Linked DNA regions of Homo sapiens. The protein of the gene in region 3 purifies or fractionates together with the protein of the main gene of each other region. This does not show direct contact. Each region holds a gene or a part of one and is shown on either strand. Other genes may lie near its edges. The genes, in order: PGD, KRT4 and USPL1.

Region 1 (3,657 bases), on a different chromosome or scaffold from region 3:
CAGGAGACCTGAGTGGCAGTTCTGGCTTTCCATAAACTTAACTGTGACATCAGGCAAGCCACGTCCCTTCATGGACTTCAGTTTCCTTATCTGTAAGATATGGGGTTGGATTACATGATCTCCAAGCTCTCTTCAGCTCCTGATTCCCTTTAATTTTATATCAGCAATTTTAATGTGAATTTTATTATTCAATTTTATTTTATATGAAATCAATGCTGAGGTTGAAATAAGGACTCAGGCCTTTGAGGAATCCGGGAAGCCCTCCCTCCTAGGCCTGCCAGTGCTTGGTGGCTTTGGCCACAGCAGCTCACTTGTCCTTACCTTTTCACCAGTGGTTGGCCATTGAGCTCAGTCAGAATCTGCTTAGGGTAGAAAGAGGCTGGTGCTGGGACTGACGTAAAGAGCTGAGTAATCTTCTCATTAGTGTGAAGGATTGGAAAGGGACCTCTGTTCCCTGACAGTAGATTACTGCGGTAAAAGGCCGGGTGTAGTGGCTCGTGCTTATAATCCAGTATTTTGGGAGGATCCCTTGAGCCCACGAGTTCAAGGCTGCAGTGAGCAGTGATCATACTACTGCACTCTGGCCTGGGTAACAGAGAGAGACCCTGTCTCTTAAACAGAAAAAAACAAAAAGATCACTGCAATAAAAGTGAGTGGTAGCAACTTTTTTTTTTTTTTTTTTTTTTTTTTGAGACAGTCTTGCTTTATCGTCCAGGCTGGAGTGCAGTGGCATAATCTCAGCTCACTGCAACTTCCGCCTCCTGGGTTCAAGCGATTCTCATGCCTCAGCCTCCATTGTAGCTGGGATTACAGGCATGTGCCACCATGCCTGGCTAATTTTTGTATTTTTGGTAGAGATGGGGTTTCACCATGTTGCCCAAGCTGGTCTTAAACTCCTGACTTCAAGTAATCGGCCCACCTTGGCCTCCCAAAGTGTTGGGATTATAGGCGTGAGCCACCGCACCCAGCCTGCAACTTTTTTTTAGATACACACACTTAGGACAAAGTCATGAAGAGAAGCACAGTCCTTGCCCCTACGTGTGTTGATCAAGCAGGCCCTCCTTAGTTCATGGCTGAAGTGGCAGGAAGGGTAAGGTGAAGTAAGATGTTAGCAGCCATGTTACTCTGTGGCCAGAGTGTCAAAATCAGAAGTCAGCAGGGGCAGCAATAGAAACATGGACAAGGCCAGGCGTGGTGGCTCATGCCTGGAATCCCAGCACTGTGAGAGGCTGAGGTGAGTGGATCACCTGAGGTCAGGAGTTTGAGACCAGCCTGGCCAACATGGTGAAACTCCATGTCTACAAAAATTAGCTGAGTGTGGCGGTGTGCTCCTGTAATCCCAGCTCATCAGGAGGCTGAGGCGTTAGAATTGCTTGAACCCAGGAGGCAGGTGTTGTGCTGAGCCAAGATCACACCGCTGCACTCCAGCCTGGGCGACAGAGCGAGACTCCGTTTCAAAAAAAAAAAAGAAACACGGACAATGGAGTCCTGATGTGAGCGTCAGTTATACAACTGACGGTCCAGGTGGTGACAGCCAGGAGAGAGACTGCCCAGGTCATCCAAACACCTGGCCTCCTGGGCAGGTGTGTCCCTGTCATGGAGCTGGGTGTAGATGACTGAGAGTTTGATGCCATGAACTGTTTGGCTCTCGTCACTCCCTTTGTTCCAGTTCTTGACAACTAAATAATTTTCGGATAATCTGGCTTCCCAGTTGCTTGTCTATAGGGCCAGAATGTGTTGACCGGACTAACATTTGTAACCACGAAGATCCATAGTTAAGGTTTTCATCCTACATTCATTAACGGGTATTCTGATTTTATACATCTTGCCAGCTTATAAATAAAGATCTGGTCTTTATTTATAAATATAAATATAAATATAAATATAATGATGGGGCCTTGGAGGGACTCCTTTCTGGGCTTACAAGGTTGAGACCTTGGATCTAGGGTCATTTTACTTTTCAGTAGCCATTAGGAACAACTACAATACATTTATATTTTGAAAAAAAACAAGTGATTTAATTGGCCAATATATTTTAACCTCTAGTTGCTAGAAAAGTGGTAACTTTGGGAAAAAGAGGACTTTTTTTCTTGTGGGTGGGGGCTGGGAAGGTGGGGAGTTGCTTTGAATGATGAGAAAGAGTAGAAAATACAGGCTAGAGAGCCATAAGTATTGAAAGTGAATTCAGGGACTTTGAGAAACCTTGAGAAGAATGAGTCTAGAATTAGTGTTAAATAATATTGTACTGGACTGAAGCTTGCTTTGAATTGCTATATGATTCTTGTATCAAAAATGCTGTACTCATTTTATACTTGTTATTTTTTGTGTGGAGAGGTAGCCTTGCCAGGGATGTTGGCATGAAAGCTGATGTGGACTTCTCTGATGTGTCGCCTGTTTCTCTGAAGGCCTCTTGGTGCTTGTTGTCCTGACAGGTGGGAGATGAGGGAGCAGGCCACTTCGTGAAGATGGTGCACAACGGGATAGAGTATGGGGACATGCAGCTGATCTGTGAGGCATACCACCTGATGAAAGACGTGCTGGGCATGGCGCAGGACGAGATGGCCCAGGTGAGGCCCCGGCACTGCCTCTGTGTCCGTTCTGCAGGGAGTGCTCACTTTGCCACAGACACCGAATCTTTTCTTCATTCCTATCCCCTTGGCCATTCGGGTGGCCTGCATGGACTCAGCCTAATTTGAGGGAAACTGTTAGTAATAGGCCTATACACTATGCTAGTCAGTCACTAAGCAGAAAGTCCCCACAGAGTCTGGGTGGTTATCATCACCACCATTTAGCGTAGCTTACCTGGTGTCAGGCACTGTGTCACTCCACATACCTGTCCCATTTACTCCCACAGTTGTCCCACATGGCAGATGCAGCAGAAGCTTTCTTTCCTGATCAAGTTGGGATTGGCTTTTTGATAGTTAATCTGAAAAGTCAGTCCAAGTAGGGAAGCTGAAGCATTTCCCCCAACATTTTATTATGACAATATTCAACCATGCAGCACAGAAGTTTGAGAGTTTTACAGTGAACACCTGGATACACACCTCCTCCTTTCTCCCATCCACAGGTTCCTGTACTTGCTTTAGCAATGTCTGTCCATCCCCCACCAATTTCATCTTATTTTTTGGATACATTCAAAGTAAACTGCAGGTATCCATACTTTTGTTTTCCCTAAATACTTTAGATGAATGTATCTTTATCATGAGGTAAACATAGATTTTAACTGAAAACATAGGAAAGGACTTTCATTCACCCGCCATTTTTTGGAGGGCCAAGGCCTTCTCGTTAAGTATGGTTTGCTGATGCGCTTTCTAGTCGTGTCTTACCATCTAGAATTTCTAGTTTCAGTTATTTCCAATGGGATGTGATTTACAGACTCTAGCAAGGCATACAGTATAGCTTTCCAGATTTTTTGTTGTTTTCCTCCTAGTTTTTTATTCATGTCATCCTCACTTACTTTGACTATTGTTTGTTTCACTGGATTGCTGTTAATTGTTCTTTCTAAAACATTACCTTAGTTTTCTTTCACAGAAACAGTGCTATTCTTTTTGTGTTCATTTTTTATTGGTATATATAATACTTAACGTGTTCACTCAGCAAACACACGAGTGCTTTACTATATGCCAAGCATGATTCTAAATGCTGGGGATATACTAG
Region 2 (2,691 bases), on a different chromosome or scaffold from region 3:
TTAATCTGCCAAAATGGCCAAAAGGACAGCCCTTTCAGGGACATTAAATCAACTACATCATTGCTGGGTTTTCTATCGAAAACAGTCTCTTTAAAGTTTGGTTTTCATGTATCTGAATAAACCCTGGCCTAAACGGGTACTTCCTATATTCAATGAATATAGGTTAAATGAATATCTGTATGAATATGGGAAATGCAACTAATTACGTGGATATTTCCAAATTTGTTTGGAAATGCTTGAAAACAAGCAGCAGAGATCTGAGAAACACCAGCTCACTGTGGGTTTTTGTCTTTTTCTCCCCGTGCCCACCCCCAGGTATGAAGAGGAGATCAACAAACGCACAGCAGCCGAGAATGACTTTGTGGTCCTAAAGAAGGTAAGAGACGAAGGATGGTAGGGAGTGCCTTCAGGGTGCCCCTTCCCTTGGGGAGTGGTCTTTGGCTGAAGTCATGGGTTTGGTCCATCTCTGCCTCATCCCTGCTTCACTTGGAACTATCTAGATCTATATAGTCAAGGAAAGTGGGTAACCAAACCAGGTTCTAAGAAATTAAGGTTGGGAGGAAAGCCTATTTGCTTTTTTTTTTGAGATGGAGCTTCACTCTTTTTGCCCAGGCTGCAGTGCAATGGCGCGATCTTGGGTCACTGCAAGCTCCACCTACTGGGTTCAAGCGATTCTCCTGCCTCAGCCTCCCGAGTAGCTGGGATTACAGGCATGCACCACCACGCCTGGCTAATTTTGTATTTTTAGTAGAGACAGGGTTTTTCCATGTTGGTCAGGCTGGTCTCAAACTCCTGACCTCAGGTCATCCGCCTGCCTCAGCCTCCCAAAGTGCTGGGGTTACAGTTGTGAGCCACCGCACCCAGCTGATTTTTATTTTTATAAATTCATGGGGTACAAGTGTAATTTTGTTACGTGGATAGTTTGTGTTGTGGTGAAGTCAGGGCTTTTAGAGTATCCATTGCTGGGATAACATACATTATATCCAATAAGTAATTTCTCATTATCCAGCCCCTCCCAGCCCTCCCTTTTTCAAGTCTCCATTGTCTATCATTCCATGCTCTATGTCCACATGTACACATGATTTAGCTCCCACTTATAAGTGAGGACATGTGTTATTTGTCTTTCTGTGCCTGAGTTGTTTCACTTAAGATAATGGCCTCCAGTTCCATCCACATTGCTGCAAAAAGACATAATTTCATTCTCTTTTTATGGCTGAGTAGTATTCTATTGTGTATATGTATCATATTTTCTTTATCCAATCATCTGTTGATGGACACTTAGGTTGATTTGGTATCTTTGCTATTGTGAATTGTGCTGCGATAAACATGAGTGCAGGTATCCTTTTGTTACAATGATTTCTTTTCCTTTGAGTGGAATTCCAGCACTGGGATTGCTGGATCCAATGGTAGTTCTATTTTTAGTTCTTTGAGAGATCTCCATACTGTTAGAATAGCCTATTTGGATAATCAACTTCCATGTCTTCAGGTGGCTCTAGGGAAGAATATATAAAATAATTGGTCTCCCACCAGCTCCCCTGCTGCTGAGTAGTCTTTCCTAAATGCTGCTGAGAACACCTGTCGGTGTCACTTAGTAACCCGTCCTCCTACTGGCATTCCTGCTCCTCATCTCTTATCCTCCTTACTCCTCTGCAGGACGTGGATGCTGCCTACCTGAACAAGGTGGAGTTGGAGGCCAAGGTGGACAGTCTTAATGACGAGATCAACTTCCTGAAGGTCCTCTATGATGCGGTGAGGGCTCCATCCTCCCCTCCATCCAGGGAAAGGGAATCCCCCATCTGTGACGCTGCTGGTTGGGATTCACAGTTTTTTGAAAGGACTCCAGCTCCCTTATTTTAGGGCAGTGGGTTCTCATCAAGGTCATGCATAGAAAGGTTTGAAGTGGGAAATTCAACTGGGAGATTCTTAGAACCAGATGTGGTCTTGGTCTTAGACGGGGTGATTAGATCTAAAGAGTGCTTGGAATAGAATTCATTGCTGTCTAGCATTTTTTTTCTGGTGAAATGGATCCATTCCCTTCCCTTCCATTCCAACACACCGGCACTCACTGCATTAGAGTGGCTTATGGTTCCTGGGGACCAGTAAAGACTAGAAGCATTGCTCTTCCATCCTGAACTGTCACAACCACTTGATTTCTCCTTAGAACTTTACCTGTCTCTCCCCTTCCTACACATTGTGAATGCCAGCTCTGCTCCTACTTGAGCCTGTATCAGGTCAGTGAAGGCTTTCCTGGGGGGGCTGATGTGAGACATTTGCCCTGCAGGAGCTGTCCCAGATGCAGACCCATGTCAGCGACACGTCCGTGGTCCTTTCCATGGACAACAACCGCAACCTGGACCTGGACAGCATTATTGCCGAGGTCCGTGCCCAGTACGAGGAGATTGCCCAGAGGAGCAAGGCTGAGGCTGAAGCCCTGTACCAGACCAAGGTGGGTGGTATGGATCTCTCAGGAGATGGGGCTGGCTCTGGGGCTCTGCTTTTGATGTCTGTGAACAGGTGATCATTAGCTCAAGCCCAATAGAAGTCAGATATGAACAGACTCTCCCAGGCATCGTTGGTCCTGGTCTGATTTGAAACTACTTGACATTTGGTGCTATTCTTGCCACCTGTGGCAATTCTCACTGAGTTCACTTGAGAATGGACCCTACCCAAATGCCCCTAACACCTGGTTCT
Region 3 (3,657 bases):
TGTGTTAAAAAAGAAAAAAAAATCCTGACTGGCCAGGCACAGTGGCTGACAACTGTAATCCCAACACTTTGGGAGGCTGAGGCAGGAGGATTGCTTGATCCCAGGAATTGGAGACCAGCCCATGCAACATAGTGTGGCCTTGTCTCTACAAAAAAAAAAATTTAAATTAGCTGGGCATGGTGGTGTGAGTCTGTAGCCCCAGCTACCCGGGAGGGGGACTACGGGTGCACGGCACCATGCCCAGGAGGTCCAGGCTGCAGTGAGCTGTGATTGTGCCACTGCATTCCAGTCAGGATGACAGAGTGTGAGACCCTGTCTCTATTAAAAGAAAAAAAAAAGACAAATAGATCCAGGAAAGGCTATGAAGAGAGAGCTTTCATGCATAAATACCAAAATATCTCAAAAGACTCTGCAAAAACCACACCCTTGCACAAAGGCCATCATGAAATACTTCTGAAATACACAGAAAATACATCATGAAATAAATACACAGAAAATACTTCTGCAAGGACATCTGCCCAGCAACTGCCTGGTCCATCTGTGGACGGGTGTCATCCTTGTTATTGATCCTTGTAGCCAAGGGTAATTATCTCAAAACAAGTATGTGATCCTCCTTATTTTCCTTTAAAAACCTTTTGTCTTCCCTTACCTCCCTGAACACACACAGTTTACTATGGCATGTGTATTCCCATTGGAATACTTTATTCCTGAATAAATGTCACTTTCTTTTTAGAAGCTTCTCTTTTCTTTTTATTTAGATTGATAAGTAGAAAGGAAAAAAAGCTTTTTTCCCTTTGGACTAGTTGAAGGCAGTTGCAGTATTCTGGGGGAGAGGGTGGTGGCAGAGGTGTTGAGGCATGGTTGGAGTTTATTTATACTTTGAAGGTAAAGCCAACAGGATTTGCTGAAAGATTGGGATATGGGGTTGGAAAGAGGAATCAAGGATAGTTCCAAGATTTTTGGCTTGAAAAATTAGAAGAATGGAATCGTGAATTACTGAGCTGGGAAGACTTGGAAGAGCAAGGTTTTGGGGAGAAGATCAGGACTGTAAGAATAGAGAAGTCCTTGTCCCCAGGAGTTAGGTTTTTGGCTATTAAAGTTAGATGTACTACATAGATTTTTAGTTGGTTTTTTGTTTTTTGTTTTTTTTTTTTTTTTTTTTGAGACGGAGTCTCGCTCTGTCACGAGGCTGGAGTGCAGTGGTGCGATCTCGGCTCACCGCAACCTCCGACTCCCTGGTTCAAGGGATTCTCCTGCCTCAGCCTCCTCAGTAGGTGAGATTACAGGCATGTGCCACCCAGCCCAGCTAATTTTTGTATTTTTAGTAGAGACGGGGTTTCACTATGGCCAGGATGGGCTTGATTTCCTGACCTCAGGTGATCCACCCACCTCGGCCTCCCAAAATGCTGGGGTTACAGGTGTGAGCCACCACGCCCAGCCCGGAGTTTTGGTTTTTGAAGCATTCTTTTTCAAGTGATAAAGCAAAAAATATATAATCAAGAATTTTAAGTATATACTTTGGAAATGTTAAAAAGGAACATGAGTAATTTATTATTATTTTTTTAATTTCTAGTCAGCAATGAGAGCCCAGTGTACTTTATGAAGTAGATTGGTTTACACCAGGAGTGAGCAGACATTTTGTATGATGCACAAACAAGGAATGATTTTTTTGTTTTTTAAATGGTTAGGAAAATATCAAAATAAAAAATGCCAGAAAAAATCAAAAGAAGGGCCAGGTGCAGTGTTTCACACCTGTAATCCCAGCACTTTGGGAGGCCAAGGTGGGTGGATTCTCTTGAGGTCAGGAGTTCGAGACCAGCCTGGCCAACATGGTGAAAACCTGTCTCTACTAAAAATACAAAATAGCCGGGTGTGGTGGCATATGCCTGTAATCCCAGCTACTTGGGAGGCTGAGGCAGGAGAGTCGCTTGAAGCCAGTGGCAGAAGTTGCAGTGAGCCAAGATTTGAGCCACTGCACTCCAGCCTGGGCGACAGAGGAGACTCTATCTCAAAATAAATAAATAAATAAATAAATAAATAAATAAATCAAAAGAAGAATACCCTTTCATAATATGTGAAAATTAAATGAAATTCAAATTTCAGTGTTCATAAATAAAGTTTTACCGGAACATAGCCATGCTCAATCATTTATGTATTGTTCATGGCTTCTTTTGCATACAACAACAGAGTTGGGTAGTTGTGACAGACTATGTAGCTCATAAAATCTAAATATTTATTATCTAGCCCTTTATCAGTAAACTTTGCTGATCCCTGTATAAGTCCTCTGAATCAAATTATTTCCAAAGAGTTCCGTTATAAAATTTGGAGTTTACTCTGCTGTAAATTGCAAAGAACCATTTGGAAAACCTCTTTTAGTCAGGTATTTACATTAAAATGTTCCTTGATTTGTAAACACTAATATTCAAGACTGGTCCAAAATTATACCAAATTGAAACTCTCAAGTGTTTTTAAACAGTAGGAAGTTTTAACTTTTTTTTTTTCGTGGAGTAGTCTATCATTCAGCGTTTACTTTGGAACATTTAATTAGTCTTTTTTAAAAACCCATGAAATTTATAATAAAAATTTTAAATCATTAATGTTGAGTAATCAAAGAAAACTTTTTTTGTTTTCTCCATTTGTAAAATGAGTACATTATTATTATAATTTGTCTTTGGCCATACCTTGTTGATAATTACTTATACAAGTATAAGAAGACATGGTATGTTTTCCTTTTTCCTATTTCACAAGAATAAGTACAGGAATTTACTTAAGCTGCTCCAAAACTCAGTGAAAGAGACAGGATTAGGTTTTTTTCAGCATTGGATTTTAAATGATACTAGATGGTTGCGCTGGGCTAAAATACTAATGCTTTGTGTATATTTTTATGACTTTTTTGAAGACAGCTTAAAAGCTTTATTCTAGTTATAAAAATGATACATGTTCACTGTAAATAGAAACAAGTCAGGTATACAGAGATACAAATATTTAGAACATGTGGAAAGAGGCAACAAAATTTTATAAAAAGAAAAAAGATAAAAATCTGAAATCATTAATTTATAAGGGAAAAATCAGGGCAAGGACAAATTATATTACAGATTGGCCTATGGTGGGAGCACAGATTATATAGAGAAAAGTCAGTGAAGACACTTGCGAAGAGTGTGGGTGGAAATCACTAAGTTTTGCAGTCCCGGGGCCTCTTATGGTTTATTACTGTTTTGTTCTTTTTTTTTTTTTAATATGCATTCCTTTGGAACCAAGGGTTTATTATGTTTTGAATAAAGTAGAGGTGTAAGTAGGATGCATATACCATGATCTTGACTACTTGAGATTCACAAAGGGTTTTCGTCTCAGGATTTTTTTTTCTCTTAAAAAAATTTGTATTAATTTTTAAATTGTAAAAAAATTCATCAACTTAACCATTTTTATGTATAGAGTTCAGGAGTATTAGGTATATTCACTTGTGCAGCAGATCTCTAGAACTTTTTTCATCTTGCAAAACTGAAACTCTGTACCCATTAAACAACCACTTCCCATTTTCCTCTCCCCCAGCTTCTGGCAACCATTCTAGTTTCTGTTTCTTTTCTTTTTTTTTCTTTTGAGATGGAGTCTCTGTCGCCCAGGCTGGAGTGTAGTGGCATGATCTCGGCTCGCTGCAAC

Evidence for each region.
Region 1: the proteins of USPL1 (region 3) and PGD purify together in Homo sapiens (affinity purification with mass spectrometry; one large-scale study listed by BioGRID and IntAct). This does not show direct contact.
Region 2: the proteins of USPL1 (region 3) and KRT4 purify together in Homo sapiens (affinity purification with mass spectrometry; one large-scale study listed by BioGRID and IntAct). This does not show direct contact.

What each region holds. Positions count from the first base shown.
Region 1 is NC_000001.11:10,408,986-10,412,642, forward strand, and holds part of PGD (6-phosphogluconate dehydrogenase, decarboxylating), read left to right. Parts: intron 1-2,432; coding exon 2,433-2,567; intron 2,568-3,657. UniProt on the Homo sapiens protein: Catalyzes the oxidative decarboxylation of 6-phosphogluconate to ribulose 5-phosphate and CO(2), with concomitant reduction of NADP to NADPH.
Region 2 is NC_000012.12:52,808,441-52,811,131, reverse strand, and holds part of KRT4 (keratin, type II cytoskeletal 4), read left to right. Parts: intron 1-315; coding exon 316-376; intron 377-1,653; coding exon 1,654-1,749; intron 1,750-2,281; coding exon 2,282-2,446; intron 2,447-2,691.
Region 3 is NC_000013.11:30,624,303-30,627,959, forward strand, and holds part of USPL1 (SUMO-specific isopeptidase USPL1), read left to right. Parts: intron 1-3,657. UniProt on the Homo sapiens protein: SUMO-specific isopeptidase involved in protein desumoylation. Specifically binds SUMO proteins with a higher affinity for SUMO2 and SUMO3 which it cleaves more efficiently. Also able to process full-length SUMO proteins to their mature forms.